4 linked regions of the Homo sapiens genome follow. The protein of the gene in region 3 purifies or fractionates together with the protein of the main gene of each other region. This does not show direct contact. Each region holds a gene or a part of one and is shown on either strand. Other genes may lie near its edges. The genes, in order: RANBP10, RANBP9, RMND5A and GID4.

Region 1 (4,038 bases), on a different chromosome or scaffold from region 3:
CACTCTGTCACCCAGACCGGAGTGCAGTGGTATGATCTCAACTCACTGCAGCCTTGACCTCCTGGGCTCGAGTGATCCTCCCACCTCAGCCTCCTGAATAGCTGGGACCACAGGAATGCGCCCCCATGCCCAGCTAATTTTTGTATTTTTTGTAGAGATGGGGTTTTGCCATGTTGCCCAGGCTGTTCTCGAACTCCTGAGCTCAAGGGATCCACCTGCCTCAGCCTCCCAACGTGCTGAGATTATAGGCGTGAGCCACTGTGCCCAGGCTCTTTAGTTGAATTTGCTACTTTTTCCTTGTATAAGAAGAAAGCCGTTTCAAGAGAGAACTGAGGTTTAAGTACCTGTCCTCTTTGGGGTCTTACAAATACACAGTTTCAAAGGTCCTTGAAGAAGGCACCTGAGGGCCTGGGCACTTGAGAGGCTGGGAAGGGCCCAAATCCTTTAGGACAGGATGTGTCACAGAAGGGGTGCCAACCTCAGTAAGACTCAAAACAGAGACCAGACACACATGACTGCTCATGGATGTGTATTTTAATAAAAATAATTCTGTCAAAATACAACAGAGTTTTTTTTTTGTCTCTCAAGTACAATTTTAATAAGATGTTTTGTGTTAGAGTTCTCTCTCCATCCTCCCACACCCACAAGTTTCATGCTAATGCCAAGTATCAACTCTTGAGGACAAAGGCAAAACCAGTGTGCACAATGTGGAGGATGTCTGTTGCAGCTGTAGTTACTAATGCAGGAAAACCCAATGCAAAGAGGAAAATGCCTGAGGCAGCCAGAGGCCACAATCTGGCCACAGGTCTGGGTGCATGAGACTGGCAGTCTAGTAGGGCTCCGCTGCCTGGCTGCCACATGGGTGCATACCTGAGTTGTGAGCAACCAAAGGAACTTTCAGCTCTGACAATTCTCTGCCTCATCTTCTTTGTGCTTGCTTAAGGAGTGGGAAGGCGCTAGGTGGCCAGGCAGTCCCCACTTCTGTCTCGTGGTGTCCATTTTGATGGCCTGCACCCAGCCACAGACCCATGAGGATGGGGATGGGGGTTCTGGCTTGCTATGAGTGCCAGTTTTTGCTCTGGAAGGAGTGACCATTTGGTGCCGCAAGGGGAAAGTGAGTAGGGAAGGCTGCTCCCCAGGGCCGGACAAACCAAGAAAGCCAGGTCTTCCTCCTGCCTCCATGGGTCAGGTCCAGCCCTTCACCAGGGCTCCCCCAGGTGCCTTTCCCACTCTAGGCTCCTGGAAGCAGGCTGGTAGGACTGGATGTGCATAAGGGGCACCTCTGGCTGGCAGGCAGGCAGGCCTGGACTCTCAGCAAGAGAGTGGGCTCAAGCAGCTTGGTTTTGGCCCTCTCCACAGCTTGTGGGGCAAAGGCTTATGTCCCAAAGGTGAGCTGCCCAACTGGGACAGAGAGCCCCTCTGGAGAGGAACAGAGTAAACAACTTGGACTCAGCTGAAACAGTGAGATAAGGCACAGAAAATGGGGAGGTGGCCATGGGTACCAAGTGCGAGCCAGGCAGACACCCAACCCCATGCAGCACACAGCTGTCCCGAGCCCTCCTGGGCCCTCTCAGCCACTCCACAACCTAAGCTCAGGCACCCGTCCTCATCCCTGACACACCCCTGAAGGTAGCAGCTTCTCAGATACTGCTGGAGGGCACATCAGCCTGACCCCTCATGGGGTTTATCTGCCATTCGGTTTCAGGACTAAATAGTGTTGCCCAACCCACAGGGATAAGGGATAGTCCCGGCTCTGCTACTAATTTGCTATGTGACTTTAGCCAAGTCACTTAATCTCCTGGGCCTGTTTCCTTATTTGTAGCAAGAGAGGAATGGGGGAGATGTTCACTGAACCCCATTCCAGCTGCAAAAGCCTGTGGTTTTAATCCAATCCTGCTAGGCTATGATCATTTAAACAGCCTGATGTCTCCAACTTCTGGGTTTGGGAGCTAGGTAGCCCCAGGCTGTCACAAGAGATGAATTTCCTTTACAGACAGGACGCCTCCTAACAGGCCATGGTCTATGGGTCTGCCAGCCCCAAGGACCAAGAAAAAGCAGCAGCTATAGGATCATTTCCCAAGGCAGAATTCTGACAGCACAGGGCCCAGGGCCCTGGCCCCATCACCAGCAGTTGGTCCAATTCAAACATTTTTCTTGTTGCCCAGCTGTGGGCCCAGTGAGGCCTGGTGAGCAATGGGTATCTCAGGCCACACCAACCATTCCCATGTCCACCAATATGGAGCAGGAGCTTGCAAAGCCCAGATTCAGGCAGGGACTGAAAGTTCAACTTCCGGCCTTGCCATGGCTGACCCTACTCTTTGCATGGGCGGCTTGTGCACTCCCCTCACAATGTGAAGCACATATGGAAATTCCAGCCGTCCTGGTGCTCCTCTGTGTAGACTTCCTCCCTTTCCTCCTCCAGGGCAGCCAGTCCTCTCCACAGGTGGGCCACCCCAAGTCCTGGCAACCATCTCAGTCTTTCCTTTCCTGATTCCCCAATGGTAGCGGGACCACTTTTACTCTGCCAGCTGTAAGGATCTATCTGAAACAGCTGGTGGGACATGTGTAAAGCTGATAGAGTCCCATTCTCTGGCCAGCAAATACTCCCAATAGTCTTTCCTAAGAGTGGCTAGGGCCCAGCTGCAGGGAGCTGTCTGGCACAGTGGCAGTGAAGTCTGGCCTAGGGGACCAAGGATTCCATCCACTCCCTGGAGTAGCAGCCCAAGAACCTGCCTCCACAAGGTACTGGTTTCTCAACAGAAAGCATCCATTCTCTCAGAGCTGTGCAGAGATGGTGAAGATCTAGGCAGGAAGAAAGCAGCCCCTGTACTCAAGGGCCTCTGTCCTGGGAATGGAGTCTTCTTTCCAGCAGCCTGACACACAGAAGCTCTCAGGACGAAGGCAGGTAGTTTCCAGGCAATCAATTTAGAGTAAATGTATTATTTGGCCATCTTAACAACAAGGGAAGATAGGGTATTGAAAAGGGAGGAAAGGGGAGCAAGGCAGGCAGTGGGAGGTGGGGTAGAGTGGTAGATAGTGTGCTGGCCAAGGACCCTCTACCTCTGCTGTGTGGCCCTGGGCCAAGTTATCACTTCTCTGGACCCTTGGCCCTGTAGTTCTCTGCTCTGTCCAGCTCTCAGGGGCCTAGGGATCTACAGTTCTTGGGATGCTATAAACCAATGTAACCATGCCCACTAAGTGGCCCACCAAACCCTATTTGGGTTTCCTAGGCTGCAGCTCGGCCTGTGACTCAAAAAAGGGGGAGCAAAAAATAAATCACTTGGCTGAGGTGACAGAGATTCTTCTTTTTTAATGAGTTGGACTCAAAGAAAACATGGTGCCTGGACAGCCTCACCCAAGAGGTGCTGGACCACTAATGCTACGATAAATACTGTCTTTTTTTTTAATATATATATTTTTATATATATATATATAATCTCATTTGTTTTTTACTTATGAAAATAATAAGCTATCACCAACTTGGATAGGCTTCATCACTAAATTAGCAGAAACCAGCTCAGCACAAACTCTCCAGAGATAAATACTGGTGGCTCAGTCAGGAGAAAAAAATTTAAAAACCCCAACCCCTCCTCAAAACAAAACCCCCCTTTCAAAATAGAAGGCGCTACATGAGAGTAACCAGCCAATACTGTGTTACAGGCCGCTGCACGTGAAGGGGAGAGAGAGAGAGACTGAGCGGGGTGGTGGGCAGAGAAAGGAAGGAAGGAAGGAAAGGGAGAGGGGGAAAGGCCAGGCAGGAGGAGTGGACTCTGTCTATGGTTTCCCAGTCCCTGCACCAGTTGCCTATGGAGGGCAGGGCAGCTCCAGCCCTGGGGCCAGTGGAGGGCCAGCCAGAGCCAGCCAGCACAGTCAGCTAGTGCAAGTAGTCATCAACTCTGGCAAAGGAGCAAGAACCCAGGCCTGCTCGGGCCATGAGCCGGAGACACTCAGATGCCTGGCCCAGGGCGAGCATCAGAGGGGGCTGCTTTGGCAGGTTCTGGGACTCTGTGGAGGAAAGACAAGGCCTGGTCACTGGCC
Region 2 (3,885 bases), on a different chromosome or scaffold from region 3:
TCTATTTGCATTTATATTAGCCGGATTCAACTACATGCCCTTACCCAATAAAAAGGGTGGGTGAGGAAGAGAAAAGCAATTTAAAAGGCGAGGCTTAGCCAGGGGTGAGCATCAAGTGCGAAACGCTAATTCGATGTTCGTTTGGTTGCCATTCCTATGAGCAGCTCACTGTAGCGTTTGTGATTATAGTATTTATATACTGAACAAGTACTTTTTATATGAATTGTGTAACTGCACATATTGTGCATTTCTATATAAATGTGATAGGGTCGATTGTTTACATAAAACAAGTTTGAGTTTTGGGCAGTTCTCATCAAAGGTAATTTATATAAAGAGTGAGTTTTCATTTGACTTCAGAGTCTAATTCCCAGGTAATTGGGACTCCAGTCTAGTTTAGAAGTCTGTGCTGTGCTGTTTGGCCCTGCAAGGTTCAGGGACTTTTAGTCACATATTTCAAACTAGTTTAGGAAGATGAGGGCAGTGCCACAAAAAGTAGATTAAAGAGTAGTTTAGATAGGGAGACTTGCAATGAGGGCCAGGACTCTTACAGCAAGAATGTAAAGGAAGCAATGAAAAGCATTCATATTTAAGACTCAGTCTGTTTCTTTGCCCTTAGAAAATTTATTAATTTGTTAAGGACCAATACTGAAGTTTGGGAATAGGAGTAGTGTCCTCAGTGTTGTAGTTCTCCGGAATTTAGGATTTGTATATAAATGTGAATTTTCTTTGGTTAATGTGTTATATTTTCATTGGTTCTACAAAATTCATTTAGCTCCGTTGGTAAAAGTAACTTAGTAATAATGCTGGAATTGTAAGGAAAATTATGGTTTACTATAAATGTCTTTTTGAAGTTATATTGTAGGTAATCATTAAGACCTAATTATTAGATGATACTAATCTTTAAAGTGACCAGTTTTCTTACAATTTAGTTTCTTGAGTTCTTCAAGGGAATTTAATTGTTGAGCACCATTATCTATAGACACATATACTCTTACATATTGTGCTATATTATGTAGATTCAGCCATAAATAGTGCTTAATCTTATTAATATAAATGTATGCGATTCCTGTAAAATTAATGACACAATTATTAAACTGCTATAGATGGGCATGTATATGTTTATAAATACCATGCTATATTATGTAGGTCCATCTATATAGTGTTATGAAAATTTCATACATCCAAAAAAGTTAAAGATGCATCGCCAGATGCTTCCTTTGGCCAAAATAAAATTAAAAAAATATTCCCTGTAGATGTTTGTCTTTGAGCACGGTCTTCCCTGTGAACCCTCAAGACACCACACTTTCTCATCAATCTATGTGCCCTTTTTTGCACACGTTTATTCTTAATCCTGTTTTTGTTTTCTCTTCTACCTTTAAGTCCTGAATTTGCTTCTTTCTGATATTGTGCTTTTTCCCTTTTGGAAATTTCCTCTTCTTTCTTCCACCATCAAATTGCATCCTCTGAACCAAGAGTGGAGTTAAACCATATGAAGCCTTCCTAGCCATGTGTCAACTGTTTTTGCCCTTTGTTGTCAACTGTGCCTATAAAGAACTGATTAGTAATTTTATTGATTAGTTTGGACATTGCCTTCTCATAAAGAGAAATTACCAGCTTCTGAGTCTGGCCACTTTTACCATTAGTTCATTTTTTTCCATCTCTGGCAAGGAACAAATTTTGTTAATTATTGCATTTGTACTACAAATGTCTGACAAAGAAACTTATGATATGCAGGACCCTGAAAATTTATTGGCATTTTTTTAAATGTCTGAACTGTCCACTGTAAATTAGCACCTCCAAAACTGTGGGGTGGCTCTGCTGTATGTTCTCTCACTGTCACCACCACCACTTACTCCCCACCAGCCCAAATAACATTACCTATATATGCCTTGGAGATGGCTAGGCAGCCTGTTTGGTCCTATCCACAGAGGTGGAAGAACCCATCAGTGGAAACTTGTAATGAAAACCTGGTGCCTTTTTTAGTTTTAGTTAGTATCAACTGACTTTGATCAACCAGAAGGGAAATAATTCCTTACTCTCCACTCCAAATATCAGATAAAAAATTGTACCTTTCCCATCATAGTTAATATGGAAGTATTTTAGTATCTGATACTTTAAAAGTCTGATTCTGCCAGAGTTTATCTTATAGTTGAATACACAATACCCACACTACCTTGTCAGAATAGTATGTCCAAGGCGGCATCTGTCTTTTGCTTAGAAACCTTCATTTGCTGATATTTCAGAGTGGTATGGGAGTGGTAGTTTTTAAAGTCATTGCAGTATTCTCCTGATTGAAATGTTTTTTAAAATGTCTTGCTAATTGCTGTTCTCATTTTTAAATTATTTTTCCTCAGAAACCCACAATCTGCCAAAGCAACCTCCACTTGCCCTAGCAATGGGACAGGCCACACAATGTCTAGGACTGATGGCTCGATCAGGAATTGGATCCTGCGCATTTGCCACAGTGGAAGACTACCTACATTAGCTATGCATTTCAAGAGCTCACACTTATATTGTGGCATATAGTCAACATGGAAGTAGACCAGCTCTGCTGATTTGAAATTTAGATTTTTTAAATTATGTACTGGGGACAGGTTTTTGTCGCTTTACATTGCTTCCTAGTTTACAGCATGATGCAAATGATTTTCTAACTTAGTGTTAGGAGAAATTATTTTCCATCTTTAACCTCTTAGTTGTCTAAGAGTTAAATATTACTGAATTTCAGACGTTCAAATTGATCATCACAAATCCTTTAAAACAATTACCTAAAAGAAACCAAAAATCCTGCCTTCTTTGTGGGGGAGGGGGGAGAGAGGGGAAGGAAATGGAACAAGTTGTGTTTGTGTTAGCATGTGGGTGATGTAAACTTCAAATTGGGAGATGTTCCGACCCCCACTCCCATATAAGCATTCAATCAGTGTAACTTGCAAAATGCATAAACATCCGACAGTTTGAATTTATAGTGTTGATGGAAGAAATCATTTTTAATGTGTACTGTAAAACTTGAAATACTCAGGAGCTGAGTGAATATGTTTGTTGCTACTTACAATCCCGACCTGTTAGTCCCAGTAGTTTTGTTTTAACATGGTCTTTTTCAACTTTGTTTCCTGTTTAACTACAGATGACTTCTGTTGTAGACTCACAAGTTTAACTGTTGTATTATAACAGTATTACATGTCAACGGTGTGGTTATGACCTTTATTTATATAAAAACCAAATATTTAGTCAATTTACCGTGTCTTAATTTAATCTTTGTACACCTTCCATTTTTAAGTGCTTAAATGAGTACTATATTGCAATAAAATGTAGTGATATAATTAACCAGCCATTAAAAATTTACTTCTACAGATACAGTGTCAATTGAGTTTATATATTAGGTACTTGCATACTTTTTATGATTACTATGAAAATTAGAGCAATTAAAATTAATGGTTTCTACAATTAATCTGAGTTCTACAACCTAAAATTGCCTTCAGTTTACTGGCATCCCTGGATTAGGGTTAGACCTGATATTGTGGCTGACACAGAAAGGCAACAGGAAATTAACTTCATTATTTTCATATTCATAATATGGCATATGAGACTCACCAGGCAAGCAAATCCCCAGACTGGTTAAAAGTAAAAATTTAAAAGCTGTTAGCTATATTTTGTGCACTGAATCTTTAATAGCAAATTGTCTACAGGCTGCAGTTAGAGACTTTGCTGGAATATCCATTTCTCCTTTTAGTCCGTGCCATTTTTGCCACCCCTCTAACCCGGGGAGAGTAGAAGAGGTGCTGTTGCTGATGTGGGTATGGCTTGAATTCAGTTAAATATATTAAAAAGAAAACAATTCCTTCTTAAACCACTTTTTCCTCTAGGATTGCAAGGCACAGTTCTACTCCA
Region 3 (6,298 bases):
GCCAGGTGCAGTGGCTCACGCCTGTAATCCCAGCACTTTGGGAGGCTGAGGTGGGCAGATCACTTGAGGGTCAGGAGTTCGAGACCAGCCTGGCCAACATGGTGAAACACTGTCTACTAAAAATAAAAAAAAATTAGCTGGGCATGGTGGCACATGCCTGTAATCCCAGCTACCCGGGAGGCTGAGGCACGAGAATCGCTTGGACCCAGGAGGTGGAGGTTGCAGTGAGCCGAGATTGGGCTACTGCACTCCAGCCCAGGCAACAGAGTGAGAGTCTGTCTCAAAACAACAACAAAAAACAACTCGGGACACTGCTCAGTCACCTTCTCTTCTCACTGTTGGTGGCACAGAAACACAGTAAGATGGGGACAGATATTTTCTTAAATTCTTGACATGCAGACCCTTAGCAAATACAGACAGCAATTTTCTCTTCTCACAGTCAGCACCTCCCTACTCCCTCCCTCATACCTTTGTCACCTGGCACATTTATACAGACTGGTTCCACAAAACACTTTTTAAATGTGCATTTCTTTAATTTTTAAAAATATACACAGGAAAAGCCATGTGTTTTACATAGGAATACACACATTAACAAAGCATTTCTTATAGTTTTCCAAAACTCTATTATATCAGTCCGAAATTTATAAATTAAATATATCAGAATTCTTAAAGTTAAAATGAATTCCCTGAAACTACTGGATATGCTACTTTTTCCAAAATCAAATGAACAGAGGATATGGATGTGGTTTGTGTTAAATAAGGTTTATTGTTAGCTTTATTGCCTATAGTCTATAAGATGCAACTTTACTGTGCCTTTGCAAACAGGATACATTTCTTAAAAAATTGATCAAAATTTTCCATACATATAGCTCTATATGATAGATTACAGTGCAACACTATTCTCGTTACATAATTATAGAAATACTATAGAACCCAAGAGCACGGGGTAAGCAAAATAAATACAATCCTGAGCCATCTGAACAAGATGATTTGATGAATCCTTTAGTGTAAGTTTAGAAAACACAGAGAAGGAAAAAAATACATGCATACTGCAGTCATGAGCAAAATACATCAAACACCTGTTCCTTGCTAGGTGCAGGTGGGGGCAATGGTGAACTTCAGACACATGCACACTCACTCACACTCCCATTTTCTTCTGCTTCCCTCCCAGCCCCAACACATTCATTCCCGCCCCTTCCCAAAAAAAAGATCAGGCACTAAATCCTAGTGAACCCCACAACTGCCTTGCTGGAGAAGGTTAAGTGACTGCTAAAGTAAGAGTGTATGTAGGTCCTCACCCATAACATGAAACAAAGCATGTGCTGTAAGCCAATTCCAGCTGCTTTTGCCTCTTTGGAAGTAAATGAAGCATATGCCCACTACAGCTTGAAACTGCAGTGGAAATGTCTTGAAAACAAAATTTTGTTTCTCTTGCTATGTCTTGAAGTAAAATCAACAGTGGAAAATTCATCCTAAAACTGCCTCATCTGCTATTAAAATACATTTGTCATTCTATTTTTGGTATCTATTCAATTATAGTTCATTAAGAACGGTTCATGAAGCTTGTACCTGCTTATGGTAAACATCAGTGTACCACACAAAACCTGCCACACCTAGACAGGCTTATGAAACACCAAATCTTCTATGTGTTCCTTGCTAACATTCCCTCAAGACCACAGCATTCTAGTGTTACCAGAGATAAAGTACGTATAGTTAAGTGATGAAAGAAAGGTATTTGGTTTGTGTCGTCACCTTATACATCCTAGTGATGAAACTAACCAAACTATGCCTCCATGCCTTCCCTGAAAATAACCTGAGTCGGCTGACGAAACAGACTGAGCAGCGTGGCTCTCAGTCCACTTTATCAGAGGTTGAGCTGGAAAACCAGAGGGCTAATGTAGTCTACCAGCAGCTTGTGCGGATAACCAAGAGTTCTTGGCTGTTGCAGTATCCACTGTCCCAAAGGCTAAGCCACTGAGGTGGAAATCAATCGCAGCATAAAGAAGACTGAACTTAAGCTGCATAACCTGCGAGACTACCTGGAGAGGACAAAAGAGGATCAGGATCCTCATTTCCCACAAAATGTGGTGTGGGTTTTAGTGTCTCTATGCATTAGCTGCTACAGAGAAGTTAACATTTACTTCATAGCTTTCTTATTTTCAATTAAATGCTCACACTCAAAAAATACACACCCTATGAATATGAGGTGGCTCTTTTCTTCAAATTTTTTAAAATAAAGAGGCACCAATACCCGTTCATTTATGTATTAGAAGTCTCGTATAATCACCAATAAAACAGAAATAGCATCTGTGATCACACAACGGAGAAAAAAGATCAAGAGACAACCTTAGCCACTGTAAAACTGTACTTGAACACTCAGATGCTCTGGCTAAGTCAGAATCTAAAGATTTGCTAATAAGGTTTTATTGGTTTAGCATAGTCCCATGGCCTTTGTCTATAACTGATATGTGGAAACGGTTCCCAAGGAAATTTAAGAAACCATTCTGAAATTCTGCCTTTGATGTACATTATAATTAAATGTGACTGTTATAAACGTTGCCTCTATCATATTATCTTTTGTAAAGTGGAGGCAAAGAGAGACAAAAAGCATCCTCCTGGACTGCTGACATGCAGAAAGCATCAGCGATGATAGGGTTGTGACAGCATTTATGGAGTTTCTAGGGCAGGGGGGACAGAATGCTGTATCTCAGCATCTTTGGTTAAGGTCTGGCCTCTTTAAATCCACCTCTCCCTCACATTTAGTCTCTCATGAATTTTAAGTCCATGCACTTGAAGACGGTCACAAGATATAATTTCCATATAATATGTCAGATTCATAAGAGTTTCAGATTTTTGGTCCTCACCCTGCCCAGTGGGAGTACACGGGCCTTACACAGAAAGCTGCAGAGTCCAATGCTTCAGTTAAAGCATGTTCTTTTCAAAGTTTTCTTGAGCTGCACAAAAAACCGTCAACAGTTTTTTGGCTCCCAGCACTGGGAGAGGGATAAAGCTGAGCTCTGGCTTTTGTCCTTTAAAGTGGCCCAAGCCGACTGTATGAAGAGTCTGGTCATCAAACACATTTACCACCAGCCTTCAGAGTACATCTGTCTCATTCAAACCTTACAGGAAGCCTAAACGTTGTGTAGGTGTTTGGGTGGAAAGATAAGAATAAGCTAAACTTGGCCTAAGGAGAAAAAGGGTAAAAAAAAAAAAAAAAAAAAAGAAAGAAAGAAAAATACAACACTCTAGGTTTTAATTCAAAGGAAAAATATATATATAATAAACTGGTTTACACCCTTGGTCAGACTGTTGCCTGGAATTCTCTACCTTCTCTTTCACAGTCCAAAGAGTTTGTCTCTGTTCTCTTCCTTCACTGCTTTAGCAAAGAGAGGGGGAACTTCAAAGAGGATTCCAACAGTGAAGCAGAATCATGGGGCAAAAGTCGCTATGGGGCCAGACTGAGGTTGGACCACACAAGCACTCCAAGCTGGGCCAATCCCAACCGCTGGTGAAGCCGCACAGCACGGAGTAGCCATCCACATAGGCCTGGCCACATGGTACTCAAGCAGAGGTTTTCCACAGTACTCTTTCTCCTCACAAACAAACCCCAGCTCTCCCAGGTAAACATTTTAGAAAAAACATCCAGGCTGGTGTACTACTGTAAAACGCTGCCAGTTTCTAATTAACTTAGCACCAAATCTGTGATTCCCCCTCCCTCAAACCAAGTCCATCTGTAGTTTAAAATGTGAAGTGCCACATTTCTCTTTGCTTCTGTGTTTTCATTTTCTTTGAAAGTATTCCTATTGATGTTCACTCCATGTCAGAAGAAATAAAGTTGCAAAATATTTGGTGATTTCCGTGTAACGTTCTTCTTATACTGAAGTAACTTCATGGGTTTCGGTCAGAATTATGTCCACAGAAGTCTTTTCCATGTAGTTCGTCATACAGAAAGACTCTTACACATGGCTATTTTTGGACAGTGCATAAATGAAGATACCTCACAAGAGAAAAGATCATTATCTGTATCCATCAGAATAATATACAGATTCACAGTCAATGAGATGATACGCTTTGCAGAAGAGAGGCATCAAACATTATACTATTCAAACACAAAAACAGCAATAAACGTTCTGCACTACAGAAAATTTGCTAGCTTCTAACTTTAAGGATTTAAAGTGATGGGTCTGGTAACTGCATTTTAGAACTGGAACATGCTGCTTTCCTTCCAGATACACAATGTTTGATGCTGGTGCACATATACAATACACACATGCACAACACTGTGTCTGCAATGATATAATAGGGCTACCAAGACCAAGAGAGTAAATATCAACTTAAGAACACTTCTAACTTTAGAATTTCATTTTATTAAACATACTTTTAAAACAAGCACCTCTTGGCAATAAAAGCAAAAACAAAAAACAAACAAACAAAAACCCAACCAAACAATAGTACTCCTTCCACTCTATGCTAACGGAAGACTTCTCACACCAGCCAGTTAAACAATGAAATTCTTAAACACGCAGCCTGCTGGGGCTGCATGCAGAGCTAAAATGCAGGTGTGCTGACTTCTTGGAGCTGGAGCAGAGGAAAACATCAAAAAGCATATCTGGAATCTATCACAGCTTTCTTTCTTAAGCAAATAAAAATGCAAATTAGTTTCATAACCACAATTCAATTTATCAAACTTTTTCTGAAGAATTTTCATTTAATTATGTATACATAACAGGAAATAAAACTTTTTCACAAACACTCTCAAGGCTTACGATTATCAAGAAAATGACAAAAGTAAAAGCAGGAGGAATATTAAACACATGGCGGGGAGGTCAATTTCCGTTTCTGCTCTTAAAAAGTAAAAAAATCACCATATAATTAAGTACAAAAACCTGCATTGAATGACAACTGCTGGTGTATTTACTTGATCAGAAATGAAGACCAAGAATATAATAAAGCCCTATGATAATATTCACCGGGAGCACTCCCCTCAGTGTGTGTACACTAACAGGTTGGCAAAGTTTCTGGAGCATTAGCTTATAGAAACACAGGAGTCCTTGGTTAGCTGCATTATATGGAACGTTCTCTTCTGAAATGCACCCACGATTCAGTTTCACTTACAAATTGCAAACTAAAGTTATCTCTTCAGAAAAATATCTGTTTGGCATCTCCTGGACTTTGTTCCATTGGACAGTAGGGACATTTTAATCTAAAGACAAAGAAGAAAACACTGAGTGAAGGAGCAGGCTCAGTACTGTGTATTCAATTTTTATCTAGTTATAGAGTATCTTTAACAATTATACACACATATAAGAACACACAAAAACAAGTCTGTTTGTATTTTGCTTTGAGGATGAACTATGCTTTCCCTTAATATAACTGCCAAGATTTGAAGGGTCACAAATACATACCACCCATGCCAGATCCTAAATTGTTTCTTAAACAAAACAAAGGTAACTTTTCTGGAAATTGTTTTTGGGGTTTCGAAAATAAATTCAATTTCTCTTTCCCAAAGGTTTAGGTTGCAACAGTCTTTAAATGAATTTCAAATGTACTGGTCACACAATCCATTCAAGGGCAGCAAATCTGATGGCAGCTACAAGCCCACACCAAGAACGGCCCACATGCCTCACAGTGACACATGAAACCAGTACAGCCTGAACTAAGATCAACAATTTTGGCCAGGCAAGGTGGCTCACACCTGGGAGGCTGAGGTGGGTGGATGCTTGAGCTCAGGAGTTTGAGAACAGCCTGAGCGACATGGCGAAACCCTGTCTCTACTAAAAATACAAAAATCAGCCAAGTGTGGTGGTGTGCGTCTGTAATTCCAGCTACTCAGGAAGCTGAGGCATGAAAATTGCTTGAACCCAGGAGGCAGAGGTTGCAGTGAGCTGAGACAGCACCACTGCACTCCAGCCTGAATGATGGAGTGAGACTCAATCGCAAAAAAAAAAAAAGCTGAGCTCACTAACTAAAATAAATTACAAATGCATATATCCTTTGAACCAGCAATTTCAGTTCTAGGAATTTATGTATCAGGTATAGATAATTCACTTAGCACTATGTTTTTTTGTTTTGTTTTGTTTTTTGTTTTTGTTTTTTGAGATGGAGTCTTGCTCTGTCGCCCAGGCTGGAGTGCAGTGGCACAATCTCGGCTCCCTGCAAGCTCTGCCTCTCGGGTTCACGCCCTTCTCCTGCCTCAGCCTCCTGAGTAACTGGGACTACAGGTGTCCGCCACCACACCCGGCTAATTTTTTGTTTTTGTATTTTTAGTAGAGATGGGATTTCACCGTGTTAGCCAGGA
Region 4 (7,394 bases), on a different chromosome or scaffold from region 3:
AACCTTGAGGACATTATGCTAAGTGAAGGAAGCCAATCTCAAAAGGACAAATACTATGTGATTATATGAAATGTCCAGAATAGACAAACAACAACAAAAATAGATGAGCAGTTGCCTAGGATTGGAGTGGGGGTTATGGCTAAGGGTTACATACAAGGTTTCCTTTTGGGGTGATGAAAATATTCTAAAATTAGGTTGTGGTGGTGGTTAAACAACTGTGAATATACTAAAAACTATTGAATTGTACACCTTAAATAAGTGAATTCTATCTAAATAAAGATACAAAAAGAAAGAAAGAAAACAAAACAAAACAAACAAAAAGAAGCTGAGTTATAAAAGGCAGAAGTATTTTAAGTCTAAGAAGGCTGTGTCTGACAAACTAGTCCTGGCTGAAAAACCAGATGATGGGGCAATTCACATGCCACTGACTAGTCGTGATGATGACCAAGCAGCTCACCAATCCAGATGTAGGGCAGCATTCATTGGCATGACCACCACCCCCACCATCAGACATCTTACTCAAGTGGCTCCCAGCCATCCACCAGGTTTCTGCTCTGGGCTGCCTGAGACCTATCAGCCCTGCCCCAACTCAACCACTGCTTCCCCTGGTTCATGATTCTCCTTCTGAAAGGAGCTCAGAAGTGATACCCTAATGACAGAAGGGAGCAGCAGTTGCTGCAGTAGCCAAAGCAGACTCCCCTTTGACGCCTGGCTATCTTGCCAATTGTCCCCTACTACATCAGAAACCATCAAACTGAACAACAGGGACAAATCCAAGATCATCCCAAACGTGACCCACCCAGGGATCTCACCTCCAGAATTCTATGACTAGGTGCAAAACAAACCGAAAAACCCCTGTACCTTCATACTCGACTCTCACATTTTAAGAAGAGGATCACTACATTAGGCATACAGTTATGAAGACAAAAATATTTCAGCCACAATCGTATTTCCATTATAATAACTATCGTGGCTCATGATAGAACTTTACAGCCCAAAGATATGATTAACATGACGATGCTGTTTCAAGTAAGCAGAGAAAATGATTTATTCCCACAAAGCAGTATGAGAATAAAAGAGTGATGAGTGCTCCGCAGTTAGCAGAAAGAAAAGGCACCCTCATTGTCTTTTGGATGGGAGACCTACTCTTCAGAAGTGAAACTAAGATTTGTTTTAAATGACCAAAAGGAGAGCTTGAGGAATAAATATACTGTACATTCCACCCTCACACCCCGGGGGGTGGGGCGGGGGGGAGGCAGTGGGGCAGCACACAGTGCCTTTCAGAGGGACAGGTGTTTGGAGGGGCTTCTGGGAACAGCCTGGCAGATGAGGTGTCAGACTAAGGAAAAAAAGGGCAAAGGGAAGGGGAAAGGGGTCCTTAGTCAGGCAGGGGTAGGTATAGAGGAGGAAGAGTTTTGTGGGGAGGGGAGATAAAAGAGTATTCACCACTGCCACTCCATTTCAGCTGGCAAAAAGTGTCAAGCCTGAGAGGAGTGAGGTGTGGGAAAGGCCCAGACAAGTGAAGCTGTACTTCCGAAGCTGATCAGGGACTGGCAGCAGGTATTCAGGAATCCAGGTCAAATGGGGGGAGGCGACTGGACATGAACTAAAATTGGGTGAGTTAGATTTCCCAGTACATGGGTACCAGAGACTAAGAGGAAGCCCTGTGCCTGTGTAGAGAAAAGTTAAGAACAGGAAAGAGGGTCCCCTGGAACCAGGATCGAGCAAGACGAAGGTATGGGGTGGGGAAGTCTGGATAGAGGCCAGGAAGACTGGGAAAAGACTGCAAATGGTCCCAGAGCAGGGGCAGGAGGCCTGGGGGTGGAGAAGCTGGAAGGAGCTGGGTGCCTGGACCATGAAGAGACAGAAGCAGTGAGTGGAACAGGGGACCCAGGAGGCAACATCCCAACAGACTGTGAGCAGCACTCAGGGAGTGAGTGCCTGGTCTTGAGGTGAGGCCAGGGCCTGACCAATCAGTTGCGGGTTAGGTGCTCCCCCGTCTGGGGGTCTGATGAAGCCCTCCTAAGGAGATCTCAGGAGGAGGAAGACCCCAAGGTCTGCGGATTCCTGGAACTGAGGAAGGGGCAGGAGGACATGTCTCAGGTCTGAGAGAATCTGACGTGGGCCCAGACATGGGGAGGGTCCCAAGTCTGGTGAAACCAATGGAGAGTTCTTCAGGGTCTGAAAAGGGCTGGTGGCAGTCCCTGATCTAGGGACGACAGGTCATGGGGAGGAAGGACCCAGGCCTTCTCCGAGTCATGAGGGGCTTCCGGATCCCAGACGGGCCGGTCACGGGCTTCAAGTCTGGGAGTGTTCGGGGTCCGCCAGGAGCCGGTCACGACGGGCTCTGGGTCCGAAGGGGCAGGTCAGGGCTGGGGCTCGGAGAGTGTGAGACACAGGCTGGGAAGGTCCCGGGTGGGAAGCGCCGGGTGCAGGAGGCCCCGGCGGCGAGGGCCTGTTCCGCGGCTGCGGGGTCGAGGAGCCGAAGCGGGCACGGCCCGTGAGCGCCGCGAGGAGGCCCTCGGGCCCCGGCCCGGCCCGGCGCTCACCTGCAGCACCACCTCTACGTCGTACGAGTTCCCCTTGCTCTTCTGGTGGCCGCGGAACTTGGAGCCGCTGTAGAGCAGGCTGGTGGCCACGCCGGGCTGCTGGGTGTTGATGGGCGGCGGCGGGATGAGTGAGGCCGCGGAGGCAGCGGAGGCACCGGCCGGCGGGGGACACTCGGTGCGGACCGGCATCGCGGGGTCCCCCGGAGCCAGGGCTGGGGGGAGTGGGAGAGGAACCGCCGCCGCCGCGCGGGAGCCGAGGAGGGTGGCGGGGAGGGAGAGGCCGGGGCGCGCACGCGCGGGGTGGGGGCGGGAGGGGCGACCACCCGCCCGCTGCCTGCGGAGCAAGCGCTCCGGCCGCCACCGGGACCCAGGGACCTGCGAGCAGGGCCTCCCAGTCCTGAGCTGGGTCCCCCTCCCGACTTGCCCTCGCGCACACATACACACACACAGACACTCACAGACACACAACACACAAACACACACAGACACACACACACCCCGCCCCTTCCGATTGGCTCAGGCGAGCCTGGGGGGCGGGAGCAGGCTCAGGCGGCGCTTCCGCCCATTGGCGGGAGGAGAAAACACGTGGCGCGGTGCGCGAGCGGCCCGCTGGGACTTGTAGTCTCCTCGCCGAGGCGCGGCGTGGAGGGGGCGGGGCGAGGTGCGTTTGTGATGCTGATTGACTGGGGGTGTGCGCAGGAGGCGCGCGGCGGCGACGGCGCGCCGTAGGTGTCATGCGGAAGATGGCGGCGTCCAAGGGAGGTTGAGGGCTCTGAGGAGGCGTTGAGAGGTTTCCGTACAGCCCGACCGTGCGGCTTTGGGGATCCCATCGCTCTGTGTTTCCTGCTCCAGGTTTCGCGTCTCGCATCTTCCCAGACCCTCGGGCGCGATGTGGAGGAGCTGCCTCCGGCTGCGGGACGGGGGACGCCGTCTCCTGAATCGGCCGGCGGGTGGCCCCAGCGCTTCTATGAGTCCGGGGCCAACCATCCCGTCTCCAGCCCGGGCTTACGCCCCGCCGACAGGTAAGACCATGACATGTTCTTTTGGGTTGGGGCCGAGCTGGGGTAAGGTGGGCTTCGGGCTTCGGCTGTGCAAAGCGAAGTAACTGAGGCAGGGTTCAGGCTCATGAGGTTATGCAGGCCAGTCAGGTCTTTTTACAGATGAGAAAGTGAAGCCCAGACAAGGGCAGACGACCCGAGAGGGAACAGCGAGTCACGCACGATACAGTAATTGATATTTGGCCTGTGCAGGTTTTCTCAAAGCTTATGGCTGCCCTCCCTTTAATAAGGAAAGCAGGTGTCATCTTTGTTTTCAAAAGGGGAAGTTTGGGCTCTGAATCAGGACTTCGTCTGGGTTACAGGCAGACTCTCTCAGAGGTTTGTGGTGTCTGTCTGACTGTTTTCCGTGTCTCCACTGCCCAACACAAGACCTGCCCAGAAGGGACCTAGAACCTGGGCCTTCATTCCTCCATCCCGGGCACTTCTGCTGCAGGTTTCCTGACTTTCCCTCCTACCACAACCTCTGCCATCTGCAGCCTTCTCTCCTAAATAGAAATTGACACCTCCACCTCTGACTGTGGAGTCACCTCCACCTCCAACTCTGATGAAGCTTAGAAGTAGTGGCTCTTTCATTGCTGATGGTGAGTGGTGTCAGGGTAAGAGTGAGAATGACTCATTTCAGTGAATGAAGAGCAGTAACACCCTCCCACCATTCAATTAGTTTTATTGTGCTGGAGGCAGGAGGCACGGTTGTCTTTAAGACCCACCTGTATGTATTGGTAGAGAAGCTCAATTAAAGAAGAAAAAGGCCCACCTGAATGATGTTCACTGTTCATTGCAAAAGGTTATAATATTCTGATTAAATTGTGGTTTATAATATCCTGATAAGGGACATACAAAGAAACTGTGAGAACACAGAGAATCGCTTACTCCCATCTTGGGGATGTTCAGGGTTTAGAATGGGTCTTGGGTGAAAGGGCGTTTGTTTAAGCTGAGCCATGATAGATGAGTAGGAGTTCAGCAAAAAGGTGGGAGAGTGTTGGGTATCTAGAACGTGTCCAGGGTGACAGCAAGGTATGAGGGACTTTTCCCTGACACTGCCTGTTTTAGAAAATCCAGAACTTCACAGGCAGTTTGGCATTGTGGCAGGAGTGCAAATCTAGGATCTGATGCTGGCTGAACCTCTGAGGTCTGTGTGATCTTGGGCATGCAACTACTTCCTCATTTTTCTCCATGCGTTGAAGTACTAGGTTGCCTTTGAGGATCTTTCTGGCTGTCAAGTTCTTTTTTTTTCTTCTTCTTCTGTTTTTTTGTGTTTTTTTGAGACGGAGTCTCCTCTGTCACAGAGGCTGGAGTGCAGTGGCACCATCTCGGCTCACTGCAACCTCCGCCTCCCAGATTCAAGCGATTTTGTGGTCTCAGCCTCCCAAGTAGGTGGGACTACAGGCGTCTGCCACCATGCCCTGCTAATTTTTGTATTTTTAGTAGAGATGGGGTTTATATTGACTAGGCTGGTCTCGAACTCCTGACTTTGTGACCCGCCCACCTCGGCCTCCCAAAGTGCTGGGATTACAGGCGTGAGCCACCGCGCCCAGCCAAGTTCTATAACTTTATAGAAATGGGGAAGGGGGCTGGATGCAGCAGGGAGCTGAAGTTTCACCTGCAGGACTCAGGGGAAGGGCCTGGAAATGGGCCATGAAGGGCCAGTAAAGAAGAGAAAGGAAGGGCATCCCAGGGAGGCATAGCAAAGGGGACACATTCAGGAGTTCACCAAGTTGGCAAAAAGCAAAGGGTTAATTAATTTATTTATTTACGTATTTATTTATTTATTTTGAGATGGAGTTTTACACTTGTCACCCAGGCTGGCATGCAATGGTGTGATCTTGGCTCACTGCAACCTCTACCTCCCAGATTCAAGCAATTCTCCTGCCTCAGCCTCCCAAGTAGCTGGGATTACAGGTGTCCGCCACCACACGTGGCTAATTTTGTATTTTTAGTAGAGATGGGGTTTCACCATGTTGGCCACACTGGTCATGAACTCCTGACCTCAGGTGATCCTCCCGCCTCAGCCTCCCAAATGCTGGGATTACAGGCGTGAGCCACCATGCCTGACCACAAAGGGTTAATTTAGATTTGTGGATGCTCACTTTACATAATGGTGGCACTTGATCTACTGCCTTCTTTTCCTTTTTAAAAAGCCTAAACTTACTAGTTAGGCTCTTGGAAGTACCTGGCACATGGTAGGTAGTCAAATGTGAAAGAAAATAGGAATGAATGAATGAGAAGGGAGGTGCATAAATCAGGCCCATGCATGCTTTTTTTTTTTTTTGAGACAGAGTCTTGCACTGTCACCCAGGCTGGAGTGCAGTGGCGCAATCTTGGCTCACTGTAAGCTCCGCCTCCCGGGTTCACGCCATTCTCCTGCCTCAGCGTCCCGAGTAGCTGGGACTACAGGTGCCCACCACCACACCTGGCTAATTTTTTTGTATTGTCAGTAGAGACGGAGTTTCACCATGTTAGTCTGGATGGTCTCGATCTCCTGACCTCATGATCCACCCTCCTCAGCCTTCCAGAGTGCTGGGATTACAGGCATGAGCCACCGCGCCCGGCCCCCGACCCCCACGTGTTCTCTCTAAAGACCTTACCAGTTGTGAGATATTTGTGCGTATTTGAAGTAGTAGAAGATTAAACCGCAGTGGGTTCTTCTCAATGAACACTTCAGTCAGCAAGCTGATTGAACTTGGCCACTTAGGAATGGCCATGCCATTGAAGGTTATCAGAAGGAGAGGAGGAGTTTACGAAAGGGTCACTGAGGTGTTGGAGAAGGAGATATTGCAACAAGAAGACCTATATGAGGTTGTTGTGGCAGTTTAGTTCTGCACCAGCTTATCAGAGGTCTATTGACTCCCAGAGTGGCAGGTGTTCTGGAGAAACCTATCTATTCAGCGTATCTGGCTGAATGCAACTGCCTGATGAAGTCAAGGCTAGAAGTCTTGTCTCTGCTATTTACCAGTTGTCTGTCACCAAGACAAGATGTTTAGCTTCTCTATCACCTCCGAGGCATTAGCTGCCTTGTCATCCTCATAGAATAGTGGTGTGGATTGAGGGAGATTATGTAGTCTGTAGATCAGGGTCCAGCCTGCCACCTGTTTTTGTAAATAGAGTTTTATTGGAACACAGCCACATGCATTCATTTACATATCATCTATGGCTACTTTCACTACAGTGGCAGAGTTGAATAGTTGGAACAGATATTGTATGGCTTGCAAAGCTTAGAATATTTACTATCTGATTCTTTGCAGAAAAAGTTTGCTAAATGTTATACATTTGGCCTGAAGGATTTTTTTAACAGCTTTATTGAGATATTTACTTGCTATACAATTCATTTACTTGAAGTGTAAATATAATAGTTTTTAGTATATTTACAGAATTGTACAGCCATTGCCACAATCAATTTTAGAACATTTTTATCACCCTTAAAAGAAACCTGCACCCTTTAGCTATCATCCACCCTTACTACTTCCATCCCTTGGCAACTACTACTTTCCTTTGTTCTTTTATAGATTTCCCTGTTTGGGACATTTTATATAAATAGAATGTGGTCTTTTTTGACTGACTTTTTCACTTAGCATAATGTTTTAAAGTTTGGGTTTTTTTTGTTTTTTTTTGTTTTTAAGAGATTGGGTCTCATTCTGTTGCCCAGGCTGGAGTGTAGTGGCACGATCACAGCTCACTGTAACCTCAAACTCCTGGGCTCAAGTGATCCTCCTGCCTCAGCCTCCCAAGTAGCTAGGGCTACAGGCACACACCACCATGCCCGGCTAGCTTTTTAGTGCTTTGTAGAGAT

The links.
Region 1: the proteins of RMND5A (region 3) and RANBP10 purify together in Homo sapiens (affinity purification with mass spectrometry; 6 studies listed by BioGRID and IntAct, with this or other methods). This does not show direct contact.
Region 2: the proteins of RMND5A (region 3) and RANBP9 purify together in Homo sapiens (affinity purification with mass spectrometry; 11 studies listed by BioGRID and IntAct, with this or other methods). This does not show direct contact.
Region 4: the proteins of RMND5A (region 3) and GID4 purify together in Homo sapiens (affinity purification with mass spectrometry; 6 studies listed by BioGRID and IntAct, with this or other methods). This does not show direct contact.

Annotation. Positions count from the first base shown.
Region 1 is NC_000016.10:67,722,554-67,726,591, forward strand, and holds the end of RANBP10 (ran-binding protein 10), read right to left. Parts: intron 4,006-4,038; coding exon 3,875-4,005; 3' UTR 517-3,874; downstream 1-516. UniProt on the Homo sapiens protein: May act as an adapter protein to couple membrane receptors to intracellular signaling pathways.
Region 2 is NC_000006.12:13,620,962-13,624,846, reverse strand, and holds the end of RANBP9 (ran-binding protein 9), read left to right. Parts: intron 1-2,354; coding exon 2,355-2,485; 3' UTR 2,486-3,349; downstream 3,350-3,885. UniProt on the Homo sapiens protein: May act as scaffolding protein, and as adapter protein to couple membrane receptors to intracellular signaling pathways. Acts as a mediator of cell spreading and actin cytoskeleton rearrangement.
Region 3 is NC_000002.12:86,772,253-86,778,550, reverse strand, and holds the end of RMND5A (E3 ubiquitin-protein transferase RMND5A), read right to left. Parts: intron 5,204-6,298; coding exon 5,140-5,203; 3' UTR 510-5,139; downstream 1-509.
Region 4 is NC_000017.11:18,035,058-18,042,451, reverse strand, and holds the start of GID4 (glucose-induced degradation protein 4 homolog), read right to left. Parts: upstream 3,045-7,394; 5' UTR 2,988-3,044; coding exon 2,550-2,987; intron 1-2,549. Other genes in the region: ATPAF2 (ATP synthase mitochondrial F1 complex assembly factor 2), read left to right, coding at 3,439-3,571.